Linked DNA regions of Homo sapiens. The protein of the gene in region 2 interacts with the protein of the main gene of each other region in a pairwise test. Each region holds a gene or a part of one and is shown on either strand. Other genes may lie near its edges.

The links.
Region 1: the proteins of RIN3 (region 2) and MPEG1 interact in a two-hybrid assay, tested with the Homo sapiens proteins (one large-scale study listed by BioGRID and IntAct).
Region 3: the proteins of RIN3 (region 2) and ZNF639 interact in a two-hybrid assay, tested with the Homo sapiens proteins (one large-scale study listed by BioGRID and IntAct).
Region 4: the proteins of RIN3 (region 2) and CYP46A1 interact in a two-hybrid assay, tested with the Homo sapiens proteins (one large-scale study listed by BioGRID and IntAct).
Region 5: the proteins of RIN3 (region 2) and CSRP3 interact in a two-hybrid assay, tested with the Homo sapiens proteins (one large-scale study listed by BioGRID and IntAct).

What each region holds. Positions count from the first base shown.
Region 1 is NC_000011.10:59,208,751-59,215,963, forward strand, and holds the start of MPEG1 (macrophage-expressed gene 1 protein precursor), read right to left. Parts: upstream 4,178-7,213; 5' UTR 4,116-4,177; coding exon 1,965-4,115; 3' UTR 1-1,964.
Region 2 is NC_000014.9:92,684,781-92,687,137, reverse strand, and holds part of RIN3 (ras and Rab interactor 3), read right to left. Parts: intron 2,152-2,357; coding exon 1,988-2,151; intron 1-1,987. UniProt on the Homo sapiens protein: Ras effector protein that functions as a guanine nucleotide exchange (GEF) for RAB5B and RAB31, by exchanging bound GDP for free GTP. Required for normal RAB31 function.
Region 3 is NC_000003.12:179,326,494-179,333,108, reverse strand, and holds part of ZNF639 (zinc finger protein 639), read right to left. Parts: intron 6,145-6,615; exon of another isoform or gene 5,765-6,144; intron 5,549-5,764; 5' UTR 5,478-5,548; intron 4,827-5,477; 5' UTR 4,816-4,826; coding exon 4,758-4,815; intron 3,492-4,757; coding exon 3,381-3,491; intron 121-3,380; coding exon 1-120. UniProt on the Homo sapiens protein: Binds DNA and may function as a transcriptional repressor.
Region 4 is NC_000014.9:99,689,063-99,695,677, reverse strand, and holds part of CYP46A1 (cholesterol 24-hydroxylase), read right to left. Parts: intron 4,598-6,615; coding exon 4,517-4,597; intron 3,899-4,516; coding exon 3,817-3,898; intron 247-3,816; coding exon of another isoform or gene 204-246; intron 1-203. UniProt on the Homo sapiens protein: P450 monooxygenase that plays a major role in cholesterol homeostasis in the brain. Primarily catalyzes the hydroxylation (with S stereochemistry) at C-24 of cholesterol side chain, triggering cholesterol diffusion out of neurons and its further degradation.
Region 5 is NC_000011.10:19,183,801-19,190,415, reverse strand, and holds part of CSRP3 (cysteine and glycine-rich protein 3), read left to right. Parts: intron 1-2,111; coding exon 2,112-2,280; intron 2,281-4,067; coding exon 4,068-4,200; intron 4,201-5,370; coding exon 5,371-5,464; intron 5,465-6,615. UniProt on the Homo sapiens protein: Positive regulator of myogenesis. Acts as a cofactor for myogenic bHLH transcription factors such as MYOD1, and probably MYOG and MYF6.

The DNA.
Region 1 (7,213 bases), on a different chromosome or scaffold from region 2:
CGCAAAACGACTTGATGAATGCAATTGGCAAACTCCCATGTTCGGACTTCATATGCATGAGCCGTTGGACAGAGGGTTTCTTAGTATATACTTTAATGCATGTTTATGTGCAATCTTGTTAGTGGGTATACAAGTTTGTGAAGAACTTCTCATTTCAATAGGCAGTTAATGTAATGCATTAAAAGCCTGGGAATTTGGGGCTATATTTTTCCTTTCTGACTCAATAATCTTCAAAGAATTCATAGGAAAGTCAGTACTTGCAGACAAGTGGTTAGCTTGGCTAAAATGTACAAAACACCCAGAACCCACAAAACACTCAGAGGTTTAGGAGAATGTTTTAATGCTTAAGAGGCAGGATCAAGTGAAGAGGTTACAGAAATCAGTGTCTCTGGCTGGGCAGTCAAGAGAGCGGGCTCAAATTCTGTGACTCACTTCTCTGTGTCTCGGTTGGAAATGAATGGGTATCCTGGTTCCCACCTTCCCACACACTGTGATACTTCAAACTCCTTGGGTGAAGGGCCTCTTCTCAGCCCAAGATCTTGATTGTGAACATTAACAAAGAGAACAGTCATCCTCCACAGAAGATAACTCATTAATGACATTTGATTCAGTGAATAAATATATCATTTAAAAAAATATTGTAGGGGGATCATGAAAGTAGTGGAGGTAATTACAATCAGGAGAGATTGGTATTAAAATTGAGCAAAGTCCCAACTCTCACCAGATGACAATTATGCATCCTGCTAGATGCCCCAGGGCTGTCAGCCTGGAACTGAAATAAATGTGTTATAAGTGGTGCTGGATGCCTTTTTCAGTTCATTTGAAAACATGGATTTGATCATGTCAGCTCCCTTTCTGCTGGAAAAAAAAGTAGTTTGCATAATTGGTGTTAACTACTCTGTTTTGATTCTACAGAGTAAGTAATACTCAAATGTGGTCTTACTTTAACTTCTTGCCTTTGTTACCCCCAGAACCATGCAGACATTGAAATGTGGTGTGCGTGTGTGTGTGTGTGTGTGTGTGTGTGTGTGTTCATATAACAGGAGGACAGGAAAGGTAAGGACCCAGAACAATGAAGACTTATTGAAATGTGGTATGTGTGTGCGTGTGTGTGTGTGTGTGTGTGTGTGTGTGTGTGTGTGTTCATATAACAGGAGGACAGGAAAGGTAATGACCATCCATGGAAGATGAAGGGGTAGTACTTAGCACCAGAATCTTTTCCAGTTTTTACCCATCTTTCATTACTCCTTGTCTCCAAATCATCCCTTCCTTAATAACTTAAAATAACTTAAAATATTTTCTGAGGACTTGATGACACCAGTCAGAAGTCCAAGAGTGGTCTGGTATAAGGGAGTGTTCATCAAGGGGCAGCTGGAAAAAGTGGAATTGGCACAGGCAACATCTTTCTTTTCAGATGTTTGAGGTCACCCAGAGGAGATAACAGTCTGTCAACATAGAGCCCTCAAAGTTAAAAAGCAGTAGCCAGGCAAGACTTGTGTCTTTTCAGGGCTCTTCCAGGCTCTAAGAGTGTGAAATTCAGACAGGTTTTTAAAAATCAAAATAAAAGGAGAGTAGTTCTTACAGGCAGAAACTCTTAGAGCTCACAAATTGGAAACAACTGCAAACTTCAGAGTAAATTCATAGCTTCCAAATACAAATGTTCACATTGTCCCTCCGCTATTTTTACACAAATGCATTCAGGTGAAGACAGCAACACACATTGGGAAAGGACATCTGCTTCCTATTTTAGTCCCAGAATCACTTTTGCTTCTAGTCCCAACTGTTCCCTCTCCCCAATCCCAACCTTATCCATGTAACAGTATGAATTTCCTGGCCCAGAGACCTAAACAAGAAGTCACGAATATACCTACTTTTGGTTGCACTTGCCATTTCAATGCTTAGGAAAACAGAGTGGTCAGCAATGACCACACTGGAGATGAGAGAAACCATTTTCGGGGAGAGATTTAAGCTGGACTCTGCCCCTGCTCTTGGTAAGTGGTGTCTCCAGTTGCTGCAGTGCCTGGAACCAAACTCTGCCTTTCCTCAATTGCCTGATATGCTTTCTTCTTGAACTTCCGGGTGCCGTAGATGGCCAAGGTGATAACAACAGCCAGAATGGTGGTGACCCCCACTGTGACCCCAGCTGCAGCCCCTCCTGACAGACCACCACCATCCCCATGGATGACATTCATGGCCCTCCGCAGCTCTATCGGTTCTCCCAGCCTCCACTGGTGGGTCTGGGAGTCTTTAATCCAGGATCTCGCATTCTCAGAATTGGTCACTATGACAGTATTGGTGGCAGCCTGACTCATGAGGGGTGGCCGGGTGAAAGGTGGGAGCCTGGCAGGGGGCAGGGACCCTCCTGTGAAGAGCCCGGATTTGACGCAATAGGACACTTGGCATCCATCGCTGATGAGGGCTGGGTGCTGGCTGAAGCCCCCGGGGCACTTTTTCAGAGACGGTGCCCCTAAATCTCTGGATATAGCAGGATCTACCAGGGGGTTCCCAACTGTGCAGCTAAAGAACCCGCCAAAGGGGACCGCAAACCTGCTTCCCAACTCATAGTCCTGAGAAACACATACCTTGAGGTTTTCAAAGAGTCTCAGTGGAAAGTAGCCGGCTGGGCATGACTGTGCATTTGTCATGGGGTTTATGCTCTTGCTGCTGAAGAGGCCCCCAAAAAGCAGTCCTGAGTTTTCAGGTACTTGGCTGCTGGCCACACACCAAAAAGCCCTAAATTCAGCTTTTGCCACCTGGAACACATCTTCACACACGGTCTTGCAGAAGACGAGGAGAGTGCACTTTCGATGACACTCCAGGTGGTTGTAACCCTCCTCGTGGATCTGGGATAACAGGTGCACCGGGGAGTAGCCAGAGGGGCAGGAGAAATCACCAGTGAGTGGATTCTTCTGCTCCAACTTTTGGCAGAGGAGGACATCCCTATTCCCTGAGAGCTGAGTGCATTCCTGATAAACCCCACCGAAAGAGAAGTTGGTCATTTTCCCCTCGCAGGAGCCATCATCCGTGTTGGCCTGAAAATTGAAGTTGGGAGAATTGAGATCTGTGCAGCCAGGGTAGGTGTTGAATGTATAATAGCGCTTCACAGCAGTTTCCACTGTCTTTGACACCTTCTTCACCAGGGGGCCTGGCAAGTCAGGTAGCATGTTGGGGTTGATGAAGAAATGCAGCGGCAGGCCAGAGCGGTCGATGGCCACCAGGTGGTTGGTGATACCCTGCTGCCAGGCCTGGAGGGTGATGCCTGGGTAAAAAGGAACCCCTCCAATGCTCTGCACCCTGGAGTTGGTTCGGTTTGAGAGGTAGCTCTTGGTGAGGACATTCTGCGAGGTATAGTTTTCCTCAAATTTGAAGTTCACGGTGTTTTGAAAGGCAAGTCCAGCAGAGGCGGTCACGGCACTACGACTGCTCTGGCTGTCTTGGAGGAAGGAGGCCCTGAGGTGGTCCTCCTGAATAAGAGCAGCCCCAGCGTCGACACTGGTGGTGACGTGGGTGCCATAGTTGAGCACCAGGAGTTCTGCCAGGTAGGTGGCCATCCTCGTCTGGTTGTTCTCTAGACGGTCAGAGATGTCAAGGAGTTCCTTCCTAAAACCTGAGCTTAGCTCTAAAGTTGGGTTGATTTTGACTGTGTAGACGAGGTTTCTTACCTGAACTCGGGTAGTTATAGCTTGGTCCTTCACTTGGAGGGTCTTCATCCTCTGGAACTCAGTGGAAAACTTGCCATTGACTTTGGAAAAAAGAGAGAGTTCTGTGTTGATGGAGTAGGAGGTGCTACTCTGGTAATTTGCCCAGGATTCCAGGATTTCTGAGTTCATCTCCAGGTTGCTCTGTTTCTGGGGAATGGTGAAGATTTCATCAGGGATGATATACTGTCCATCCTCTGTTGTCCTGCAGTTGGAGTAAGTCAATTCCATAACTCGTCCCATGTCCACATTCCGCAGATTGTCCCAGCCCCCTCCAGGTAGGACTTCCAGGACAGGTAGTTTCAAGGCATTCTTGCATTTTTGAACTCCAACTTCGTCCATCTCTCCCGAAGGCTTGCCTGATTTAGCCCATGCTGCCGCTGCCCAGAAGAGGATGGTGGCCCTGAAGTTGTTCATGGCTCAGACAGCCCCAGCCACTCACCAGCCCTACACAGCGGCCAGCAAGCTTTGGGCAAACTAAGATGGAGAAAACAGAAGCAGATGATGAAGCGGAAAACTCATGAGTTCTCTAAAAGCTACAAGTTCCTCTTTAAGCTAATTTAATGACAAAATGGGGAAACGAGAGTTGGTTGGAATATTAAAGACCATCAGGTCTTTGAAGAATTTATGCCGTACTAAACATGCAAACACACCCCTACATGCCTAACAGGTAGCTATCCTAATTTTTCCCCCAGCTCTGGCTGGTTACTCTGCTGCAGGGGTGTGCACTTAGAAAAAAATCCCGACCCCACACCCTACTGCTTCCTCCACCAGAAAGTTTGGCTTTGCTTTTTGCTCATTCTCTTGGACTTGATGTTTCATATTTTCCCTGACTGCTGTCTCTTGGGACTCCATTATCAGTTTTCTTTTACTATAAATGCAGAGGCAAATGACCACACCACCCTTACTGAAACACCCTGGCTCCACCATACCTATGCAAGCTGTTAGTCAAGGCCAACCCTGGGTTTCCTCTTTGCCTGAGGGTGGAGGCTGTTTCCACAAAAGAAAGGAGTGAAACTCTTGGACACTTGTCCTGTGGGTTTCACTGTTATGAACCATAGCAATTCTGTCTTTGGGGATGGCATTGTCTGGAGCACAGCTGACAGGGCCTGAAGAGGATTCGGTTGCAATATGCTGGGAAACCCCAATTTGCATTGTCCTAAGCATTCAAAGCGAGGGCAAGGAACTCCTACACTGTGTTGTTTTCATTCAGATAGAAATGTTCAAGACAAAACCACACTATTATCTAGATTTTGATTTATCAACAGCAGACAGGGGCCAAGGAACATATGTGTATGTGTACACACATTTATATATCCTCTGTGTGTGTGCATTTTGTATGAAGTTGGTACCTGTTATACCTTTAATTTTTTGTTCCATTGCTAAGTGTGTGTAATCAGTTTAGGTGGATAAAAAAGAATGTGGCTCTTCACTACCCAATATTTTTTCTAAAAGCAAAAATTCATTTGCTATATCATTAGAAGAATATAATTACATGAGTTTCTTTTCAAGTTCCAATGCCAGCTCTATTAGAGCCCATAATTTAAAACAATGGTGACAGGTTTGATTGAAACCCAACTCTGTTAATTCTTTGGGACAATTAGGCTATGTCTTAGTATGCTTAGTGGTAGCCAGGGAATCCAGAGGACTTAGTGAAGCTCCCAGTTGCATCCTTAACATTCCCAAGATTATACCATGAACTAGATACAGTACTGAGACTGAAAAAGTCATGTTGCAATTCACAGGTATCACTACACCATCACCTGTATGCATCCTGGAAGGAAGGTTCCAAGGAGTTGAATTCCTCTGTTGGTTATTAATGCAGCAAAGAAGTGTTTTTAGAAAGAATGAGGCTAGTTATCTTGCTTCCCAGGCTGGGCTTCACCAGTTATTATCAAAACCATGATGGTGTTCTATAAATCTAGAAATACTGCATTCCGGGTATATTTTTTTTTCCAAGACAGGGTCTTGCTTATTGCCCAGGCTTGAGTGCAGTAGCTATTCACAGGCATGGTCCCACTACTAATCAGCATAGGAGTTTTGACCTGCTCCATTTCCAACCTGGACCCGTTTAGCCCTCCTTAGGCAACCTGGTGATTTGCTCCAAGGAGGCCACCATATTGATGCTGAGCTTAGTGCAGACACCCAACTGGCATAGCACACTACAGCCCAGAACTCATGGATTCAAGCAATCCTCCCACATCAGCTTCCCAGGAATCTGGGACTGCAGTCATGCACCACCACACCTGGCCATTCTGGTTCTATTTGTGCCACAGTTATCATGCTTCTGGGAAGTGACACCAGCCACCTAAGAGGGATTAATTTATGAACCAGTGCCTAGTCTGTATTTGGCTAAAGAACCAAATCTTTGCACAGGATGTTCTAGTTAATTTATAAATCAGTTAGCCATAAATTTATACCTCAGCAGCATGATCCCAGAATTAGAAAAATGAGAGTTGAATGCCCTTGAGTACTTCCAATAAGTCTGTTGAAATACCTACATACTTCTCTTCAAACTATTTCTGGGATGGTTCATCAAAATTAGAATACTCTCACACTGCTTTGGAGACAAGCTGACAATTTGTTACCCTCTGCTTTCTCTTTAGTAGACCCTGTTGAGAGCTCACTCTCCTGAAATGAGAATACAAGCAAGGTTAATACAGACAATTCTATATTCAGGTGTTCCTATGTCTCCAGACGTCTAGTCACTGTATTTTTTATTCTATAGACTTTGTCTTCATTTTATCATAGGAAAAAAAAATTGAAAATAGCAGAAAGAGCCAACAACGGTAAAATTACATTGTACCCATAAGACAAAATATTGTATAGCCATCACAATTATTTAAAACTATTTTAATAACATGAGAAATTCTTATGCCATAATGTTACTGGAAAGGGTTCCCAATGCAGACCTCAAGAGAGAGTTCTTGGACTTTGTGCAAGAAGGACCAGGGCAAGTCCACAGAGTAAGGTGAAAGTAAGTTTATTAGAGAAGTAAAGAAACAAAAGAATGGCTACTCCATAGGCAGAGCAGAAGTATGTGCTGCTTGATTAAGGATACTTATCATTATTTCTTAATTATATGCTAAACAAGGGGTGGATTAATCATGAGTTTTCTGGGAAAGAGGTGGGCAATTCCCAGAACTAAGGGTTCCTCTCCTTTTTAGACTATACAGGGTAACTTCTGGAAATTGGCAGTCATGGCACTGGTGGAAACATCTTTTAGCATGCGAATGCACTACAATTAGTGTATAATGAACAATGAGGATGACCAGAGTTCACTCTTGTCGCCATCTTAGTTTTGGTGGGTTTTGGCTGCCTTCTTTACTGCATGCTCTTTTATCAGAAAGATCTTTGTGATCTGTATCTGTATCTTATGCCAATCTTCTATCTCATCCCATGACTTAGAATACTTAACCCTCTGGGAATGCAGCCCAGCCTTCTTTTACCCAGCCCCTATTCGAGATGGAGTTATTCTGGTTCAAATATCTCTGACAATAATGTTATGAAAAAAA
Region 2 (2,357 bases):
GGCCCGGAGCGGCCTCGCCTTCCCCGGGGCTCAGGGCTGCAGGCAGAGAGGCTGCGCGCGGGGCTGCCCCCTTGTGGCCGGATTGGGAACAGCAGGCCTGCGCGGGAAGCGGCTGAGGATCCCGGCTCGGCGGAGACCGTGATGGCAACTGGTGGCTAGGGCTTAGGCGAGGCCGGGCTCCTGTCAAGAGCTTCACGGGGACCGCCCATTTCTTCCAGGAGGGGAAAAGCCCGGCCCACTCCCTCCGTCTTAGTGGCTGCCTCAGGGCTCCTTGTCCTCCATTAGGCCTCCCAGGGCACTATCCACCTGCTAGTGACTGTCCAGCTCTGGGCTTCCCCTCCCCAGGGAAGGGTGCCCACCCCCCAAGGCATGGTGTGCGGAGGAGGCACTGGGAGGGGGCAGAGGGTGGTGCCCTCCCCAGATCCCAGATGTGGTGCTGAGGGGACCCCCCTCCGAAGCTTCCGTCTCCCAAACAGTGGGTGGTCCGTTTCATCCATACTCTGCCTGGCTCAGCATCAGGAACCCCTAAGGTAGAAGCAGGAAGTACGGGATGCCTGGGCCAGGCTTGGACCAAGAGTGTCCATGTCCCTACAGTCTGTGGGAGTCCGGGGTGTTGGGAGGGGATGGGAACAGAGGTGTGCTGGAGCTGGCTCACACCCGCCAGGGAGAGCCGACTGCATACACTTCTTTCCAACTCCACATTCAGTGATGCCAAGTTGAAGTTGGCCATGGAGGACTCACACCATGGAAATGGACAGAAGCTAAAATCAGAGCTTTTGTTTTCTCCCCAGAGAGTCAGTTATTAAATTGATTAGCCATAGTCAGCCTGTGTGGGCAGGAAAACTGAGTCCCAGAGTGGGGCAGGGATTGCTGAGGGTCACACAGCAAGCTAGTACAGGGCTGGGGCCAGAACTCAAGCCTCCTGTCTCCCAGGCCTGGGCTCTGCTTATTATAGATGCACCATCTTGAAAGCCAGGAGTGTGGCTCAGGACTGGTCTGCTCTGGGTGTCAGAGGAGTGAGTCTGCATAGCTGCTCACAGCTCTGGATGTGCCTGGCTCACTAGTCCAACTCTCACCCTTTTTTACACACCCAGTCCTGCTCTGTCCCAGGCCCTGGGCTTGGCGCCCCTGAGGCATGTGAACCATGGGCTGTGCCCTCCCAGAGGTGACAGCTTCATATGCAGAGGATGATAGGATGTGATATGCACTGTAAAAGGGGAGGCCGCAGGAAGCCCAGAGGAGGGCACCCCACCCAGCCTGTGTGAAACGGTGTGTGTGTGTATCAGGGAAGGCTTCTCAGAGGAGGGGCTGTTGGAGAAACTGAGTCGTCTTAAAGGATGGGCAGTGACAGCCAGTGAAGAAGGGGAGATTGACCAGTGAGGGCAGCGGTTGAGCAGCCAGTGAACTGGGCTGGGCATGTTTGGGGAACTGGGGGCAGCTGGATTTGATGCAGCCTGGGGGTGGGTGGGGTGATGGAGTTGGGGAGGGGCGGGACTGGTTTGAATACTGAGTCTGTATAGAGAGAGGTATGGGGAGGGGTGGGCCACTGGGTTGGTGGGGGTTACGCAGACCCTTGGCAGCTGCTGCATTTGTCCAGGGACTAAGGAGCAAGGCTGTAGATGAGCCTGTGGGCTCCTTAAAGCAGGGACTGGGATGACAAGTCCCCATCTCCAGCCCCTGCAGGGTGCTGGGTCCTAGGAGGGGCTAAGGAATGATGGGTGTGTCTCATTCCTCCTGCACCCTTCCTGCTTGCCCAGGGAGAACACCAATGCCTGCTGATATGTTTCTAGACGCACCCAAGTCCTGGACACACACTGGCAGCAGGGGCTGGGGGCCCTTCCTCTGGTGTGGGGAGTCTCACTGCTCCCCTAAGGCAGGGCTGGGCGGCTGGAGCAGCCAGGTGATGTCACGGCTCCTTAGCCAGCAGGCAGCAGGGATGGTGTCTGGGACATGGCCCCACCGGGCCCCTCCCGCTCTCAGGCCTCACCTGTACGGAGGAGCGGGAGGCCCGGGCCTTGTTGAGAGTACGCCGGCGCTCCCAGCGGTGGATGGAGTCCTGCACCTCCACACTCAGCTGCCGGGTCACCGTGATCTTGTCGTAGCTCTTGATGTGCTCCAGGGCCCCGTAGGTGGTGGTCAGATAGTAGGAACCTGCGTGGACAAGGGTGTGGAATCTGAGCCAGGACCGCCTCCGCCCACCAGAGGCAAGGAGCTTGGCCTGCCCCACCCACCTCCTCCAAGCCCCGCCCACCACCTCTGCTTGAGGCACATCTGCAAACACCTGCTTCAACAGCTGAGCTCAACCCCACGCCCACCCTCCAGCCTCAGAAAGTTTCCTAGAGTCCAGCCCTGAGCTG
Region 3 (6,615 bases), on a different chromosome or scaffold from region 2:
TGTGGTCTAGAATTCTAAGTACAGGACTGGGAACCAGGTAGTTCTGATTTCTGTTTCTGGCCTTGATTCCATCTGCAAATTTTGGCAAGTCATTTGACGTCTCGGTATCAGAATCATCATCTGTAAAAAGGGATTTGGAAGAATACTTATTATTTATACAATCAAAGCATTAATTATAGAACAAAGCATCAATTTTTAAATATGATTTTGAATTCCAACAGGAACTAAGGACTTGGATTTAGTCATAAAAAGATAAGTTATCTATATACCTCAGACACAGAAAATCTGCTCAAACAAGCAAATGCTTTAGAATTGATGCCCCATTTGGACTAGATTACACTTTTTGAAGTTCCTTAGGATTTTAAGTTTAAATTACTGAGTTTGAATAAGCCTTTATACCCTCAGGCCAGCCCCAGTGTTTCAAAGTTAGCATGGGGAAACTGAAATACAGGTTAATAGTGAAAACTGGGCTTCAACATTTTGCGAGGGACCAAGTTTTGCTCAGTCTGCCAAGGCTGGAGTACACTGGCATGATCATGGCTCACTCACTGCAGCCTCAAACTCCTGGGCTCAAGTGATCCTTCAGCCTCAGCCTCCTGAGTAGATAGGACTACAGACATGCACCACCAAGCCCGGGTAATTCTTGTTTTTTGAGATGGGGTCTTGCTATGTTGTCCAGGCTGGCCTTGAACTCCTGGCCTCAAGCGATCCTCCCACCTTGGCCTCCCAAAGACCTGGGATTACAGGCGTGAGCCACCACACTCAGCCCATCCATCATGTTTTCTTAAAATAGACCTTATTTTTTAGAATAGTTTTAGAATTACAGAAAAATCTGAGAGGATAGTATGGAGAGGTCCCATGTATCCCAGTTTCTCCACTACTAACATCTAACATTAGTGTGGCACATTTGTTACAATTAATGACCAATACTGGTAACTTATTAATAAAAGTCAATAAAGTCATCTAAATGCCCTTAGTTTTTAACCTAATGTCCCTTTTCTGTTCCAGGATACCACATTCCATTAAGGTGCCATGTCTCTCTATGCTATTGTTGGCTGTGGCAGTTTCTCACTCCTTGAGGAGTACTAATCAGGTATTCTGTAGGATGCCTTGCTAATGGAATTTGTCTGCTTTCTTTTTTTTAAAATGATTACGCTGGAATTATGGATTACTGGGAGATAGACCAGAGGTAAATTGCCATTTTCATCACTTCTTATCAAGGGTACATACTATCAATATGATTTATGGTTGTTGATGTTGATCTTGATCACCTGGCTAAGTCTCTATCAGGTTTCAACACTATAAAGTTGTCTTTTTTTTTTTTTTTTTTTTTGAGATGGAGTTTCGCTCTTGTTGCCCAGGCTGCAGTGCAATGGCGCGATCTCGGCTCACCACAACCTCCGCCTCCCAGGTTCAAGCAATTCTCCTGCCTCAGCCTCCCGAGTAGCTGGGATTACAGGCACGCACCACCACGCCCAGCTAATTTTGTATTTTTAGTAGAGACAGGGTCTCTCCATGTTGAGGCTGGTCTCAAACTCCTGACCTCAGGTGATCTGCCTGCCTCAGCCTCCCAAAGTGCTGGGATTACAGGCGTGAGCCACCGCACCTGGCCTAAAGTTGTGCTTTTACTTTCCATACTTTACCTTTTGTAAGAAGTCACTATGTGCAGACCATGCTTAAGGAGTGCAGACTTATATTCCACCTCCTAGAGGGAGGAGTAGCTACATAAATAATTTGGAGTTTTACTGCTTCTTGGCCTTTTGGCTAAGATGAAGTCTAATAATTTGGAATTTTTCTGCACAGATTTGCCTCATCTCCTCTATTTAATAATTTATAACAGCATGAATTCATGGATATTTATTTTATACTCTGGGTTATAATTTTTTGTCCCCAAATAGTTTTCAGTTTTGGCTGTTGGGAGCTCTTTAAGTTGACGTGTGCCCCTTTGGCATACCCCTGTCAAGTGCGTGTGTTTAGGTTTTTTTAAGTACTTTCCTATTTTCCAGCACTACAAAATGCTCCAGGTTCATCTTGTATATTTCCTGCCCCAGACCTAGAATCAGCCATTTTCCCAAGGAGGCATTAGAAACCAAGAGCTGGGCACTGAATGTGCTCATGCTCACTGCTTCTGGGTGTCATTTCTTTTAGCCCCTCTCAGCTAACACAGCAAAGTGTGTGTGTACAGTACCACATATATATACACACACATATCTACAAGCATTCTGTATGTAGCCATCTGAATCTATAGTAAGCTAAACAGGAATTCATACCGATGTCTCTAACTCTCTAACTTAAGTGCAAGTTGTAAATTGTTATCATTCACCAATGCTGTAGAACAGAGGAACCAATAGAAGATCCAACATTGAAAAATACCAAATCACCCTCTGTTCTTTTCTTCCACACTATGTGGTATAGCTGAGTAGAACTGTGTCTAACACTATTCTTAACCTTTCAACATAAATACTCCAACTCTGAGTCACTCCTGCATTGCCACCAATTCCTAACCAACTAAAGTGGATTTAGGGCTGAGAGCCGTGGCTCACACCTGCAATCTCAGCACTCTGTGAGGCCAACATGGGAGGACTGCTTGAGGCCAGGAGTTCAAGACCAGCCTGGGCAACACAGCAAGACCCTGTCTTTACAAAAAAATTTTTAAAAATTAGCCAGGCATCGTGGTGCATGCCTGTAGTCCCAGCTACTCAAAAGGCTGAGTGGGAGGATTGCTTTAGCTCAAGAGGTCAAGAATGCAGTCAGCCATAATCCATGGAGTGAGACATGGCTGCATGGGTGACAGAATGAAGACTGTCTCCCCCTAACCCCACCCCCTTCAAAAAATGGACTTAGGAGAGTGCACTTTTTTATTTATATGTCAGAAATAATGTTAAAAGTTAAAATTACAGCCGGGCACGGTGGCTCAAGCCTGTAATCCCAGCACTTTTGGAGGCCAAGGTGGGCGGATCATGAGGTCAGGAATTTGAGACCAGCCTGACCAACATGGTGAAACCCTGTCTCTACTAAAAGTACAAAAATTAGTTGAGCGTGGTGGCGCACACCTGTAACCCCAGCTACTCAGGAAGCTAAGGCAGGAGAATTGCTTGAACCTGGGAGGCGGAGGTTGCAGTGAGCCAAGATCGCGCTGCTGCACTCCAGCCTGGGCGACAAAGCGAGACTCCATCTCAAAAAAAAAAAAAAAAAAAAAGAATAGTTAAAATTACTTGCTTTCTTAAAAAAATACAACTTTGTTTTCTTACATTGTAACAAATTTCAAAGACTTGTCTGTTTTGAAATCATCAATCCACATTTTACCCACATTTTCAAGTAAGGAATAAAAAATGTAAAAGCAGTTTAAAGAAACATATTTTCGAAAATATTAGATATACCTTTGTTGTCAAAATATTTTAAATCTGGCTGTCTCATAGAACAGACACTGTAACAATGATCAGAGAAAATTCCATTGAATCCATCTGCAATTCTGCTTATTCCAGAGGAATCTGAACATAAAATGAAAAATATTTCAAGTACAGTAAACATACATATTTAATGAGAAACTTCCCGTTATCTAACTTATACAAATGTTCTTAATGTTAATTATAGTATCTGTAATGAAAATATTATACATTTTCAACTTTTAAAGCTTTTATATTTCAGATCCAATATTGACATAGGACTTTGAAAGAACCACAAATTACATACTCTAAAACATAACAACTTTGAAATATACAAGGATACATTTGTTTTATACTCAGAATCACACAAAATAAAAATATATGATAAACACTGTATTAACTGCACAAAACAGTGAAATAAACACCAGGAAGGTGTGCCATGTCATGCAGAGAAAGGTTGTTACATAGGGGAAATGGTAAGGACCACTTAGGGCTTCTGAATATAGTCATTTCAAGTGTTGTCTAGGAAGGGCCAGTAAGCAGTATACTAGGGTTAATTTCTTCAGATATGAAGAATGTGTAGGCTGGGTAGACTAATAGGTAAGACTGAGATGGTCCCAAGTAAATGTATGCGAGGTGTATTAGAGATGGCCACAAAGACCCCTTTTCTTATACTGCCAACACAGCAGAGCCAACCTCAATGAAAGGATCTAAAATTACACAGTCATCCAGCCTGGGCAGCATGGTGAAACCCCATCTCTACTTTAACACTACAAAAAATTAGCCAGGTGTGGCGGTACACGCCTGTAATCCCAGCTACTTGGGAGGCTGAGGCAGGAGAATCACTTGAACCCAGAAAGCAGAGGTTGCAGTGAGCTGACATCACACCATGGCACTCCAGCCTGGGCTAGAGAGTGAGACTCTGTCTCAAAAAAAAAAAAAAAAAAATTACACATTCAGCATGAAAGTTTACATTTCCTAAAGTAATAAAGAGGATAAAGTCTTTTTTCCCCAATAATGTAAAATATTTTCTACCAAGGTTGTCATTATTGGGTCTTAAGCACAGCTTAGGTATCAGACATGCAAATCCCAATTATGTTATATAAGTAAATAACCTTGGCTATCTAATTTTAAATATTTATAACCCATAGAGCTGTGAGGAATAATATAATGTCTGTAAAGTTCTTATGTGTGCCTAGCACATGGTAGACAATAAGGAATATATATTCAGATAATGTATTTAAACCGTTGTTTTACCTAAATATTGACCCAGATATTTAAGTCTTATCTGATCACTTAGGAGAAAATGGATGAGAATATAATTTTGTGGGAATTAATCCATACCCAACTTTAAAATAATTATACACTGACCTGAATAACGAGAAGGGTGTAGAGTCTTCCTTTTTCTTTTTTTAGGATACTCATTCATATCTTTTCAATCTAAAAAACGAGAAAAAATTAACAAATATGTCACAAATAACAACTGTTAATGACGTTATAAAAATTCTAACTGAAGAATTTATTGGCAATATGAAATATGTGAGCCACCTGAAAATCTATGGTATAAGAAAAGTGTTAAATGATGCCTCTGTTTGTATTTCAGATTGTTTTCCAGTCAGGTTTCAAGGCAGAAACTGATTTCTGTTTTCTTTCTTACGGAGGTTAAAAAATTCTTTTTCAAATGTTGATATAAATTGTGAGAACTGGATAATTACAATAAACCACATGTTTAAGTCATTTTATTTTGTGTATATATAAAAAAAGAAACACTGTGCCTATGGCACCATACTAGGAGTTTTATAGGCACATTTCCTACCATTGGAAGTATTTTTAGGTAGTTTTCAAGCTAAAGGCGGAGACATTTCCTTTAAAAAAATATTGTCACAAATATGTATCGGCCTCCTGGCTTCCAGAAAAAAGTACTCATCACACAGATCAGAATATAAATAATTTTCAAGAAAAAAATCATTTTCCTATTTATGAGGTCACATTCAACGTTCCACTGAGAACACAACACATGCAGCAACCACTATCCAATTAAATTCTCATTAACTGTTACAAAATTAATTAGTTTCAATACAGTCCACTTACTTGGTATAATTCTTACTACTGGAGTGAGGAAAAATGAATTACAATAAGTTTCTGTAGACAGTAAAAAATGCCTGTAAGTAAAACATGAAAGAAGTTATTAAGCAAAAATACAGCTCATTTCTGGTACTGAATAATACAATGGCACCAGATCTTTAATCAATTGGAAAGTTATACAGAACTAATTAAGATATATTATTTTGAAAACAATGTACTACATACTAAAAACTGTATATCTTGATAAATATGTGATTATATGCAAATTTCCACATTTCTTTGAAATGATTTACCTTCTATAGTTCTTTTTTTTTGAGACAGTCTCATGCCTGACCTATAGTTAAATCTTTTGACACCAAAATAGGACTATGAATCTGAATTAATTTATTCATCCATAAGGAAAGCAAGCATAATGAAAGCAAACCAAATTATAAACTTTTTGTTTTTGAGACCGAGTTTTGCTCTTGTTACCCAGGCTGGAGTGCAATGGCGCGATCTCAGCTCACTGCAACCTCTGCCTCCTGGGTTAAAGCGATTCTCCTGCCTCAGCCTCCCAAGTAGCTGGGATTACAGGCATGTGGCACCACACCGGGCTAATTTTTCTATTTTTAGCAGAGACGGGGTTTCACCATGTTGGCCAGGCTGGTCTCAAACTCCTGACCTCAGGTGATCCACCCACCTGGGCCTCCCAAAGTGCTGGGATTACAGGCGTGAGTCACCTTGCCTGGCCCAAATTATAAACTTTAAACTGTTACAGCCCTTATAGATTATTTATTTAAGAAATAAAAGATCGAGACCAGCCTGGCCAATATGGTGAAATCCCGTCTCTGCTAAAAATACAAAAATCAGCCGGGTGTGATGGTGCGCACCTGCAATCCCAGTTACTCAAGAGGCTGAGGCAGGAGAATGGCTTGAACCTGGGAGGCGGAGGGCTACAGTGAGCTGACATCGTGCCACTGCACTCCAGCCTGGGCAACAGAGCAAGACTCTCTCTCAAAAACAAAAAATCAAAACAAAACAAAAAAAGAAAAAAGTAAAAGTGATAATAATAATTTACTGACCACCAATTATGTACCAGGCTGTGAACATACTTTATCTCATTTAATCCTATGTAATCGTATGAGATGCAAAATTCACATCACCC
Region 4 (6,615 bases), 7.0 Mb from region 2:
GCTTGGGCAACAAGAGCGAAACTGCTTCTCAAAATAATAATAATAATAATAATAATAATAATAATAATAATAAAGCTGGAATGGCTTAAAGTAGACAAAATATACTTGGAGTAAAGAATGTTATTAAGAATAAAGATGAACATTTCTAAGGATAAAAGAGTCAATTCATCATAAAGACAAATCCATCCTAAATGTGTACACACCTGATAACAGAACTTCAAAATGCAGGAAGCCAAACTAATGGAACTGAAAGTAGAAATAGATAAATCTATGATTATGAAGGGTTCAACATTCCTTGCCCTGCAACCACTAGAACAAGTAGACAGAAAATTAGAAAGGATTTAAAAGATTTGAATAACACTATTGACCAAATTGACCTAATCGACATTTCTAAAACACTTTATTCAACAATAACACAACATACACTCTTTTTAAGGGTTCATTAACATTCACTTTGATGAACCATATGCTGGGCCATAAAACAAATTTCAATTAATTTAAAAGGACTGAAATCATGATGATGAGTATTCTCTCTGACTTTACAGAATTAAATTAGAAATCAATAACAGAAAGATATCTAGAATATCCCCTAATATTTAAAAATTGAATAACATACATCCAAATAATCCATGGTTCAAAGAATAAATCACAAGGGAAGTTAGAAAATATTTTGAACCAAATGAAAATAAAACATATCAAAATTTGTGGTAAATTTGTCCTAAAGCAGTGCTTAGAAGGAAATGTATAGCTCTAAATGCTTACATTAGAACAGAAAAAATGTCTAAAATCAATTGTTTAAACTCCATCCTAAAAATCAGAACAAGAACAAATTAAACCCAAAGTGAATACAGAAAGGAAATAAGAAAGAGGAGAAATTGGCTGGGGGTGGTGGCTCACGCCTGCAATCCCAGCATTTTGGGAGGCTGAGGCAGGCAAATCACTTGAGGCCAGGAGTTCGAGATCAGCCTGGCCAACATGGTGAAACCCTGTCTCTACCAAAAAAATAAAAATTTAGCCACGTGCAGTGGTGGGCGCCTGTAATCCCAGCTAGTCGGGAGACTGAGGCAGGAGAATCACTTGAACCTGGGAGGCAGAGGTTGCAGTAAGCTGAGATCACGCCACTGCACTCCAGCCTAGGTGACAGAGCAAGACTTCATCTCAAAAAGAAAAAAAAAAAAAGAGGAGAAATCAATGAAATAGAAGACAAACAATGAAGGAAACCAATAAAACTAAAAGCTACTTATTTGGAAAGATGAATAAAATTGATAAACCTTTTGGTGAACTGATCAAGAAAAAAAAAAAAAAAGAAAACCCAAATTACTACTCTCAGGAATGAGAGAGGGAACATATCACAGATCCTACAGACATTAAAAAAAAAAAAAGAAAGAAAATCTCATGAACAACTTTATGCCAATAATTTAAGCAAATTATGTGAAGTGAACAGATCTCTTGAAATATGTGAATTATCAAACTCAAGAAAACAGAAAATCTGAATGCCATATGTCAACTAGAGAAGGAAATGCTGAAACATGCTACAAGATTAATTCACTTTGGAAACATTATGCTAAGTGAAATAAGTCAGATGCGAAAGGACAAATGCCATATGATTACACATGTATGACGCACATAAAGTAGTCCAATTCACGGAGACAGAAGGTAGAATAGTGGTTTCCAGGGTCTGGGGGGAGGGGAATGGGGAGTTATTGTTTAACTGATACACAGTTTCAGTTAGGGAAGATGAAAAAGTTCTGGAGATGGATGGTGGTGATGGATGTACAACAATGTGAATGTCTTTAATGCTGCTGAACTCTACACCTAAAAATGGTAAATTTTATGTTATGTGCATTTTATCATAATTTAAAATTTAAAACATACAATGTAAACAAAATTAAATTTGTAACTTAAAAAAAATAAAAATTTCCCTCAAATAAAACTCCAGGCCCACATGACTTCACTGGTGAATTATATCAAATATTAAAAGAAGAAATAACATCACTCCCATACAAACTTTTACAGAAGATAGAGGAGGAAGTTACCACTTCCCAACTTATCCTATGAGGTCAGTATTAACCTGATGTCAAAACCAGTCAAAGACATTACAAGAATCAAATAAATATGGAAACAAAAACTCTTAACAAAATATTAGCAAATTGAATCTAACAATAATTAAAAGATAATATATCATGACCAGGAATGCAAGATTGGTTTAACATTTGAATATCAATCAATCAGTATAATTCACTATATCAATATATATCTTTAAACTTCTTTTCTCATTAAGCATCACGAAAGTCTTTGTGCATGGTTTTTGGTAGCATGCTTTTACAAGTCTTAAATTGTGTCTATGTTTGAAATTAAACTTTTAATGAAAAATTATTTTTAACATTCTGCTAGAGATTCCTGGTTATTCATTCAACCTGTCTCCTTGTCTTGACTGTAAGTTGTATTTTATCCCTCTCAGAGTCACCACAGCCACCCTCCATTGCAGAGAATTGCCCCACACATCTGCTGCGCACCCATGGTAAGAAAAAAAATGCATCATTGTTTATTGAGCAATTGCTGTGTGCCAGGCAGGGGCTAGATGGCTCATTTATATTATTTTAGTTCTATTCTTACAACCACCCTGTAACAGAGGCACCAACTCTATTTCACAGATGAGGAAATGGAGGCCCAGAATGAAGCAACTTGTCCAAGGTCCCACAGCCAGTTGGTGGCAGAGCCCGGAGTTGAGCCCAGTTCTGCCAACTCCACAGCAGATACCCATTCTTGGAACCTTCATGGCAGACAGGACAGACAATGCCACCTGCCTTGGTTCCCTCATTTCACTTCTTTTTTTTTTTCTTTTTTGGAGATGGAGTCTCACTCTGTCACCCAGGCTGGAGTGCTGTGGCACGATCTCAGCTCACTGCAACTTCTGCCTCCCGGGTTCAAGCGATTCTCCTGCCTCAGCCCCCCAGGTAGCTGGGATTACAGGCGCCCACCACCACACCCAGCTAATTTTTGTATTTTTAGTAGAGATAGGGTTTCACCATGTTGGCCAGGCTGGTCGCGAACTCCTGACCTCAGGTGATCCACCAGCCTCAGCCTCCCAAAGTGATGGGATTACAGGCATGAGCCACTGTGCCTGGCCCTTTTTTTGAGATGGAGTTTCACTCTTGTCACCCAGGCTGGAGTGCCATGGCACGATCTCTGCTCACTGCAACCTCCACCTCCCAGGTTCAAGTGATTCTCCTGCCTCAGCCTCCCGAGTAGCTGGTATTACAGGTGCCTGCCACCATGCCCAGCTAATTTTTGTATTTTTAGTAGAGATGAGGTTTCACCATGTTGGCCAAGGGACTAATAAGAGTCCCTACTCCTATGAGGATTAAATGCGTCACTAATTGTGAAGTGCATAGAAAAGTACATAGTAAGCACTCTTTAAGGATGTTTTGACATATTATTTGTTAAATAAACTGATCAATTTTTAATTCTTATCATAGCCCTGGAGATAGAGTTATAATTCCCATCTCACAGATGAAGGAACTGAGGCAAAGAGAGGCAAACTAAACGTGTGTGCACTAGTTGGGCAAAACTTCCAACCCAAATGGGGACAGCAAGGTCCCCATCTACTCCCCACATCAAAAGGCAATGCTTGCAAGAGTCCCCAAGGAGTGGGTGCTTAGAGGGAAAGATGCCATTCCTTTCTGGATCTTTGGGAAACCAGCCGAAATGCGCCTGGCTCTGGAACATTCATCCAAAGTCTCTGGGACCAGGCTTCACTCCCCCAACCCAAGGAAAGGCAGGGAACTCCCTCATGGAAACCACTCTTCCTCCTACCTTAACCGACTCAGGACTCGTGACGATGACTGAGGTTTTGTGGAAGACGTTGACCCGCACAACAGGTCCATACTTCTTAGCCCTGGAAACCAAAGTGACCCGAAGGAAACTGTCAACCACCTGAGGTATGACCATCACCAACCCCGCCCAGCTGAGAAACCGATGTTTCCCGTCCCAGAAGGTGCTCAATGCATGCTACCAAAAGAGTGCTGTCCTGGGGCCCAGGAGCCCTGGGGGCAAGGCTCTGCCCTGTTGCTCACTTGCCGAGTCATGTCCCCCAGCAGGCCTCAGTTTCCACAGCCATGGAATAGGGTTGGAAACACTCCTTCTTTGATTGTCCCAAAAGGTTGTCCTGGGAATCAAATGATTCGCATCTTTGAAAGTACTTTGAAAAATGTAAAAAAGTGACACACCAAACAATGACTGTTACCTGGTCACACCCCCCCACCCAGTTTACAGATGAGGAAACTGAGGCTCAGAGAGCTTCTGACGGCTGGTCTAAGGTCCTGCAGTGGATGAATGGCAGAGCATGGCTTCCAAGCCAGCCTCACCTGCCTCCACTCAGGGGAGGAACTGCTGGGGCTGGGAGTAACCTGGGCTAGGGGAAGGTGAGGCTGGGAGTCTGTGTGCTGGATTGGGTTGGGGGAGCTGCCCCAAGGGAACCTGGAGTAAGGGCAACAAGTGACAAATGAGAACCCACCAATCCAAAAACACATCTTGGAGCACACGGCCACCAACCTCATCCTTTTTCCAAAAGCAGGGGAGGTGTCCTAGAAGGAAACTAGAAGAAACAGGAAACATTAGGCTTACCAGCAGTCAACAGGAAAGAACGCTCCCTTCCCCACAAGATCTTATTACTAGGCCCACTTCACAGACAGGAGGACCGAGGCATGGGGAGGTTACAGCACTGGCTCAGGGACACCAGGCAGTAAGAATGAAGACAGGATGCAAACCCAGGTCTGACCAGCTCCAAAGACCCCCTTGGAGAAGAAACAGTTTTTTTTCCTGTCTCCCTGGCACAGAAGTTGGGGGCTGGCAGATAGAAAGGACTCAATAATATTGTGTGGGATCACCCTCAGATATTCCCCAATACTGACCAGGCTGGGCACCACCACGCTAGGCTTCACCCCTCCAACCTCCCCACATGGCTGATCAGTCTGTTATTAACCGTATTATATAGGACAGCCGAGATGAAAGGGTGAAGTCATTTGCCCACAATTGCACAGCTGGTACCAGGGCTCCCCAAAGCCCATCTCAGCAAGGGATGGTTTGGTCATATAAATCTGCTGTGTTCACCAAATTGTAAAGAAGCCAGTGCAGTGTCATCCTGAAGCTCATTCCAAGGGGCCCATGACTTCCTGTCTCCTGTATGACTTTATTCCTACCAAGCTCAATGCAGCATCCCCAATGGGTGACAACAAAATCACGTTCTCCCAGGGAAAGGCGGAGAGTAAATAAACAAGTAAAGACAATGTCAGAGGGTGATAGGAGAAAAAGAGAACAGAGTACGGGGAAGAGGAAGGGCTGGGGATGAGTGTGTGGGTGTCCGTTTAAAACCCATTTATGCCTAGTGTTCCATTATTGGAACGCTAAGCTTGTGGAAGTTATTTATGTCCTACTGCTCAAGGTCAACACCAAGGTCTGATTTTTCAAATTCAAAAAATTGCAACCTCAGGCATAAATGGGTTAATGCAGGCAGGGCACGCAGTGTCCCTCTAAGAGGGTGGCTTGTGAGATGAGACCTGCAAGAAGCGGGGGAAGAGCCTTCCAAGCAATGGGAACAGCAGGTGCCAAGGTCCTGAGGTCAGAGTGTGCTTGGACAGTGAGGAAGCCAGTGTGGCTCGGGCAGAGTACTTGAGGGAAACAGAGTACAAGGTGGGTCACCAAGACTGGGGGCAGGTCATGTAGAGCCTTGTGGGCTGTGGTCCAGATTTTTGCTTTGACTTTGGTGAGCTGGGGTCCACTAGAGGGTTTTGAGCAGAGCAGAGATGGGATCTGACTTGGGTTTGAATGGATTGTTTTGCAGCAGTGCAGAGAGTAACCAGGGTAGGGGAGGAAGCAGGGACACTAGTGACAGGGAAGGACTGGGAGAGGTGACGAGGGCTCAGAACAGAGCAGGGCAGCGGAGGCAATGATAAGAAGAGGTCAGATTCTGAATGCTCTGTGAGGCGGAATACTGGAACGTGCCGTTTGGCTATGGGGGTGTGAGGATGACTCTGTGTTTTTGGCCTGGGCTGCTGGAAGAATGGATGGAGCGACCATCTACCAAGATGAGGAGGAGCTGGTTGGGGTGGCAGAGCCACCGTGCCCACCCCCTGCAATTTGCCAGGGCCGTCTCTGGCTCTGCCCACAGGAGATGAACCCACTTTGAGCAGCCCTCCACCAATGACCTCAGCCCCTCCACTTCTGGGGTAGCTCTGGGCATGTGCTCTACACAAGTCCCCAGGGTTCCCAGGGAATTGCACCTGTTTCCCCAAGAGGTAACTTGTTTTATTGGTTTGTTTACCTTCTTTATCCACTCTCCTCCTCCCACTGCTCAAACTGGGATCATCCCCCACCTCCTAAACTACTTACACTTCATTTCTTATCTCAGGATCAGCTTTGGGGGGACCAATCTCAGACAAGCAGATGAAATTAGGAGCTTGGCTTGGGACCGGTAAGGTTTGTGGTGGACTATTGAGCAGGAAGTTAGACACTCAGATCTGGAGCCCAGGGAAGGGCTGTAGGCTAGAGACATAAATTTGAGAGCCCACAGCAGAGAAGTGGTATTTCCAGCCCAGTGATTGGATGAGGCCACAA
Region 5 (6,615 bases), on a different chromosome or scaffold from region 2:
ATATTTTACATGATTTTTGCGTTTGTACTGAGTGTTTGAAATCTGATGTGCATTTTGTGCTTACAGCACAGCATGTGGCTGTGGCCACAGCACTGGACAGCACAGTTCTCCTTTGTCTGTTCACAAAAGCTCATCAGAAGCCAGGGAGTGGCTACAGAATTGGCCAGGGCACCTTAGGGTATAGGCAGTCTTGGAGTGATGGGAATGAGCACTGGACTAGGAGTCAAAAGAGCTGAGGTAAGCCGTGGCTCTGCAACTTACTATTGTATAATTGTGAACAACTCACTGATTTACATTGACACATTCATTCATTCATTCATTCATGTACTCAATAAATGTTTACAGAGGACTAATTCTGGCCCAGGCCTTGTGCTAAATTCTCGGAATATTAAGACAAAACAGGCTTGCCCTCAAGGAACTCAGAGTCTAGACCATCAGCAAATATGCAAGCAGTTGTTGTGGAGGTTGGTAACTGACAGTAACAAGAAGGGTAGAGACAAGTGTACACACCTTCTATGTCTCAATATAAGGCATTCTCCCCCCAAATTCATCTTCATAAAAAAGATATGCCTTGTGTTTAAAGCCTTATAAAGTCTCTCCTGCTGTAAGACATTCTTCCAATTATTTTATTTACTGATTTAAACTTTTTTTTGGTACAGATATTTTTTAACACATACAATGTTGACAGAATAGTCAAATAAAGTCCCAGAATAAACTCCCTTGCCCCACACTCATCAGCCCCTGGCTAATCCTACCTCATCTACAACCTTATCTTCTTCCTCCACTCCCATATTCAATTACTTTATCTTTTAAAAAAGATAATATCATTTGAAGAAGGCATATTAGCCTGAAATAACCTCATTCAATGCTGGATTGCTTATAGGGATCATTTGATGGAAATGTTTTTTTAAAAGGCAAATACATTTAATGCACACATATTATTATTCCTGGGGATATTATCTCCCTATTATAAGCACTGAGCATCACTATAAACAACCTTTAAGAATCATTGTTGCAAAGCAATGTAGCAAGTCATTACATGGTGGAAATTCTATATCTTTTAAAAAATCTGCCCTAATGCTATGCTAATAGGTCCTTCTTGTTGAGATGCAATTTCTAGGTGACAACCTCCTACTCAGGTATAAAACAGGGCTGCCTCTTTAAACGTACAGATAGAAGTGAAAGTGAGCTGCTCAGAAAAGCTGGGCCAGCTGCCCCCAGAAATGATTCTGGTGGTGAGGGAGATGCCGATGTTGAAGATGCAAAGACAGAATTGGAGATAATTATTCCCCAAATTTATGTGGGATTAGAAAAAAGTAACCTTTCCAAATCAATATATTGTTGATTTATATTACTAAATTAAAATTATAAGTAGATATTTGACATTTTTATTTATATCTTTAAAAGTTTCCTTTTAAATTTGCAAAATAAATCTTTCTATAAATCCTCTCTTTGGAAAAATGAGGGCTTGATTGCCTTATACTGGAGGATACTTTACATTAGGTAATATACAGTAACCAGGGGGCTTGAGCCAATAGAAGCCTAAGGAGTTAATAAGGCAGGTCTACCCCCTTCCCCACCTCCTCTGCTTCCAGAATTTGACCAAAATTAGCCTCAATGGCAATTGTCTGCTTGAATATCACAGTGTCCTTCAAAGGCTGTGGTAAGTACAGAAAGTGCTCAATCCTGATTCTTTTATGATTAAGAAAAAAGTAAGTTTCTCTCCTGCCTTAACCCACCCCCTGCCAACGCGCGCGCCCACAAACACACACACACACACACACACACACACACACACACACTTCCCTGATGTCATTTGGGAAGACTCAGGGATGCAGTCCTTAGCAGGTCTGAGACTATATATCTCGTTCTAATGCTAGCTTCCACCCTTTTCCAGCTGGGAACCACTGAACCCAATTTTGTCATCTGTGAGATCGGGACTGTCTTGGAGTGCACAACTCAGGGCAGATACTCTGGTCAGGAATCAACATTGTATTCTTGGCTCAGGGGCCCCTCATGCTGGGTCTCTGGCCCCGAGCATGGCATTGGGAGTGCAAAGAAGGGGAGAAGGATTTCAATTCCAATCCCATGACCCTTCCTTTTCCTGGCAGTGGCCTGCAGGAAGGCTCTTGACAGCACGACAGTCGCGGCTCATGAGTCGGAGATCTACTGCAAGGTGTGCTATGGGCGCAGATATGGCCCCAAAGGGATCGGGTATGGACAAGGCGCTGGCTGTCTCAGCACAGACACGGGCGAGCATCTCGGCCTGCAGTTCCAACAGTGAGTTACTGCCCTGCTCCCCCTTGCCTGTTAAAGTCTCCAATTATCAGGACAGTTCATTTCGTTCCCATAGCAACGTTTTCTGGAAGTGGGAGAATGGACTCTATTGTTGACTTGCCAACAATAGGAATACTCAGTCTGACCAAGTTTGAACAATGTGTCATCTCTCCAAAGACTCTCTTTAAATTATTTGCCATTCTAAAGGGCAATTACTTTTACACCATGGCTCTTGGTTTGCATGTCAAGAGAAAACCCAGGATGTACAGATGTTCCATTGTTTGACCTTTGCAAAACTGCATGGAGTCTCCTTTCTTCCCCGTTGAGAGTTTCTGTGTAAATCACACAAATATGGCAGGGCAGCAATGGCCATTCTTTGTGTGCCTGTCATGAAAAGATTTCTTCCCTTGGATTGTAAGATGACAAACGTCCACATGGCAGGGGGAGTGTGTCTGCAAGGATGGGCTGTGCCTCAGAGTAAACAATCAATCATGATTTTTCTGGGGGTTCCCTGGCTGCCTGTTGCCAATACAGTGCTAGAGTTCCCGCCACATTATCCTAGGGAAGCTGGGACATCACTCTGGCCACCTCCATCCACCAGTCTGGTCCCCTGGGTCCACTTTCTTGATAACCACATTGACCTCCAGCCCAGAATTGAGGAAAGTCTGATGGCCACTGGCCTGACACTACTCTCTGGCCAGCTGGCCTCCAGGCTGAGCTCTGCACTGCGACTGGCCAGAAAGGCCCAGCCCAACCAAGGAAGTGTCCCATGGAGGGCCTCCCCCAGAGAGCACTTCAGCCATCTGAGGAATCAGCTGATCCCTTCAAAAGAGAGTAAGCCACAGGAGAGCATGGAAACGTGGAGAGATGTGTGATTAGTCATCTTAGAGAGAAGACTTCTTTTTGTTAGTTTGTCTTATTACTCAATCTCAAATGGAGACTCTTGTTAAGGAAGAAAACATACCACTGCATTCTCTGCCTCACATTGACTGAAGTTCACTTTTCAACATTAGGGCTTCCTAGTGATGCTGCACAAAGAGTAACAAGGTCTGAAGACCTAGGATTTCCTCCTAGGTCCATCATTCATGAGCTGCCTGGCCTTGGGCAGTCACACTCTGATCCTCACTCTCCTCCAACCAGCCCTGCCTACCTTATAGGGTTGTGGTACAGCTCAAGTGATATAATATACAAGCAAACACCAAAAGATACCAACACATGAGAGGCTATTATTATGTCTCTATTTTGGACATTGTTCTCCTGGGACAGGTGACCCTTGGAGGCAGGACGACAGCCTGGCTTGTGATAAGGAATGCATCAGCTCATGGACTGTGGTTCATCAGGAACTGATTAGCACCCATTGTCAAAATCCCACCTTGCTCTGTAATTTTCACAACTCTCTTTAGAAAGGAAAGAAGTGGCCTTGCAAATGGTCCAGAAAAACACAAATAAGCACAGTAGTAATAACAACACAACAACAACAATAACACAAGCTAACATAACTAGAACATTTGCTAAGTGCTTCACAACAAAAAGGAAAGCTCTAAACCCATTTTAGCAAACATTTATTAGCCCTTACTACATGCCAGGCGGGCACTGTTCTAAGTGCTTTACAAATGTCGCCTCATTTAACCCTCTCAACAACGCTATGAGAAAGACACCATCATTATCCCCATTTTCCAGATGAGGAGTCTGAGACACACGGAAGTGAGGTCACTTTCTCAAGGCCACACAGCTCTTCTACTCTTTGCCAAGGGAAATCTACGTTTCATTCATTCGTCTATTTCCAACAGGTCCCCAAAGCCGGCACGCTCAGTTACCACCAGCAACCCTTCCAAATTCACTGCGAAGTTTGGAGAGTCCGAGAAGTGCCCTCGATGTGGCAAGTCAGTCTATGCTGCTGAGAAGGTTATGGGAGGTGGCAAGGTAAGACCTTCTGTATGAGCCAGACAGAATTTGCTCATCTCCACCAGGCCATTTGGGAGGAATGAGAGAAAAATTGGGAGCTGCAAGCAGCTGTCATTCTCTCTAGCTCCCAGAACAACTTTAGAAACCACACATCCTCAGCCACTTTCCCAGGCTGGGGCTGTCTGTCATCTAGCATTGCCCTTTGAAAGCTGGAACTGGTGCAGTTTGAAGCAGCAAGCATTATTCTACTAGATGGAAGGCACCCAGCTGAAAGTTCTGGGATACAAAGCAAAAGCCCGTCTACCCTCCAGTGTCCACAATCCCCCCAAAAGATGTCAGCCCCAGACCAACCACTGCCTAACTCAACCTGTTGCTGCCACCATGACCAATGGATATAGCAGACGCCTCACAGTAGTGAGAAGCATCCTCACTTACGAACTTCCTGGCTCTCAGGAAAGTCATCAGATGTCCGAGACACTCATGCATATGTGCTCTGCAAGTTCCAGTTTCAGGCCCAAAGCCTGGGTACTCACCAAAGGAGTCAGACCTGAGGAAAGAGAAAAATTATGTTTATACCACATGGTGGGAGGAAGGGCCGTGGGGAGCATCTAACTTCAAACACAAGGGCAGGCTCCACCCTAAAACTGGCCATTTGAAGACATAGGAGAAGCCCTGGGCTGTACCTGGTAGACACGCAGATGTGCAGGAGGATGGAGATCTAGAACATCGAAATTATGCAACTCTGCCTCAGAATTACACAGAGGAATTAAACCAGAGAGTTAAAACAAGGTTGAATTCCCTGAACAATTGCCTGATTTCTTTATTTTTTTTCCTTCTGTAACTTTATACTCAACATAAACATCACCCAGTGCCCCCAGCCCAAGTCCTTCTCTGACCAGTTTGTTCCTTGGATCTTTTTGGCCTGGGGAAGCCCTTTCCCGTTTAGTCTATTCTGAAGGAAAACATATGCAAATCACCATGACAAATCCATTTTCAGGCTTCTGAGAAGTGCTGGCTAAGGCCATAGCATCTCATTTTCTCCAAACCCCTGGAGAAATTATGGGGCCCATTAGGTAAGCAAATGGTTAAGACGTGTCACTCCTCTGGATGCTGCTGGTCAGGGACTTGAAATGGAAACAGAATGTGTTGCCTACCTCATTAAATATGCAACTTTTCTGTGCCCCTCAGCCTTGGCACAAGACCTGTTTCCGCTGTGCCATCTGTGGGAAGAGTCTGGAGTCCACAAATGTCACTGACAAAGATGGGGAACTTTATTGCAAAGGTGAGTGATTCTGGAGACTTTCTTGAAATATGTTTTCCCTAAAAGGGCCCTTGGGAGAGGAAATTACGTTCATGCCTGGAGGTCTTCCCGTGTCTTCCAGGAGGTATGGCTGCTCAGCCTGGGCAGCGTTGGGTTCTCAGGAGCAAAACCACCTAAGGGGAGGGAATCTCCCACCTGACCCAGCTCTGGTCCTCTCCACTGGAGCACCTGGCAGAGACCAGATGCTTTCAGATGCTCAGTGGTTCGGGAAGTTAGGCACCTGGGGGAGAGAGGAAGGGAAGAGGAGGAAACAGTGCCCTGCCTCTGGTCTTGGAAGAGGCCTCAGGCCAGGACAACTAACACCACACCCCCTTCCAAAAATCGAAACACCATCTGTTCACCTGAGTGGCAGAGGGGGTGACTGGAGGAGGGTGAACTCAGTTTGGCCTCACTGGAGTTTATCATGACATGTCTATCTCCCTCCTGCCTACCCCGCACTAACAGTTCTGTTGTCGATGTTGCACGTTACTTAGTGATCATAGGGACAGATCTGGTTTTCCTCCTGGTCCTTGCAGCTCTGACCCTCGCTGCCTCCATAATCCCTTGGTCTTGTGGAGAAATAGTAGAGGCTTAGCTCCTTCTTGACACTATCAAAGGAAGGAATGCACTAGGGCCAAGGCAATGCGTCCTCCACCCCTGAGCCTAGGCCTATTCTGTTGCTCAGTGGAGTTTCATCACTTAATGATGGTGTCTCAAGAATCTCCAAAGGAGTATGTTGGAATGAAGTGAGAGGAGCAATGGAAAGGGAGTTAAGAGAGAAGACTTTATAAGTCATAACTGTACTTTGCTGTATTAGTCTGTTCTCATGCTGCTAATAAAGACATACTCAAGACTGGGTAATTTATAAAGAAAAAGAGGTTTAATGGACTCACAGTTCCACATGGCTGGGGAGGCCTCGCAATCATGGCAGAAGTCAAAGGAGGAGCAAAGTCACACCTTACATAGCAGCAAGCAAGAGAGCAAGTGCAGGAGAACTGCCCTTTATAAAACCATCAGATCTCGTGAGGCTTACTATCACGAGAACAGCACGCCCAGTGATTCAATTATCTCCCGCTGGGTCCCTCCCACAACATGTGGGGATTATGTGAGCTAATCAAGATGAGATTTAGGTG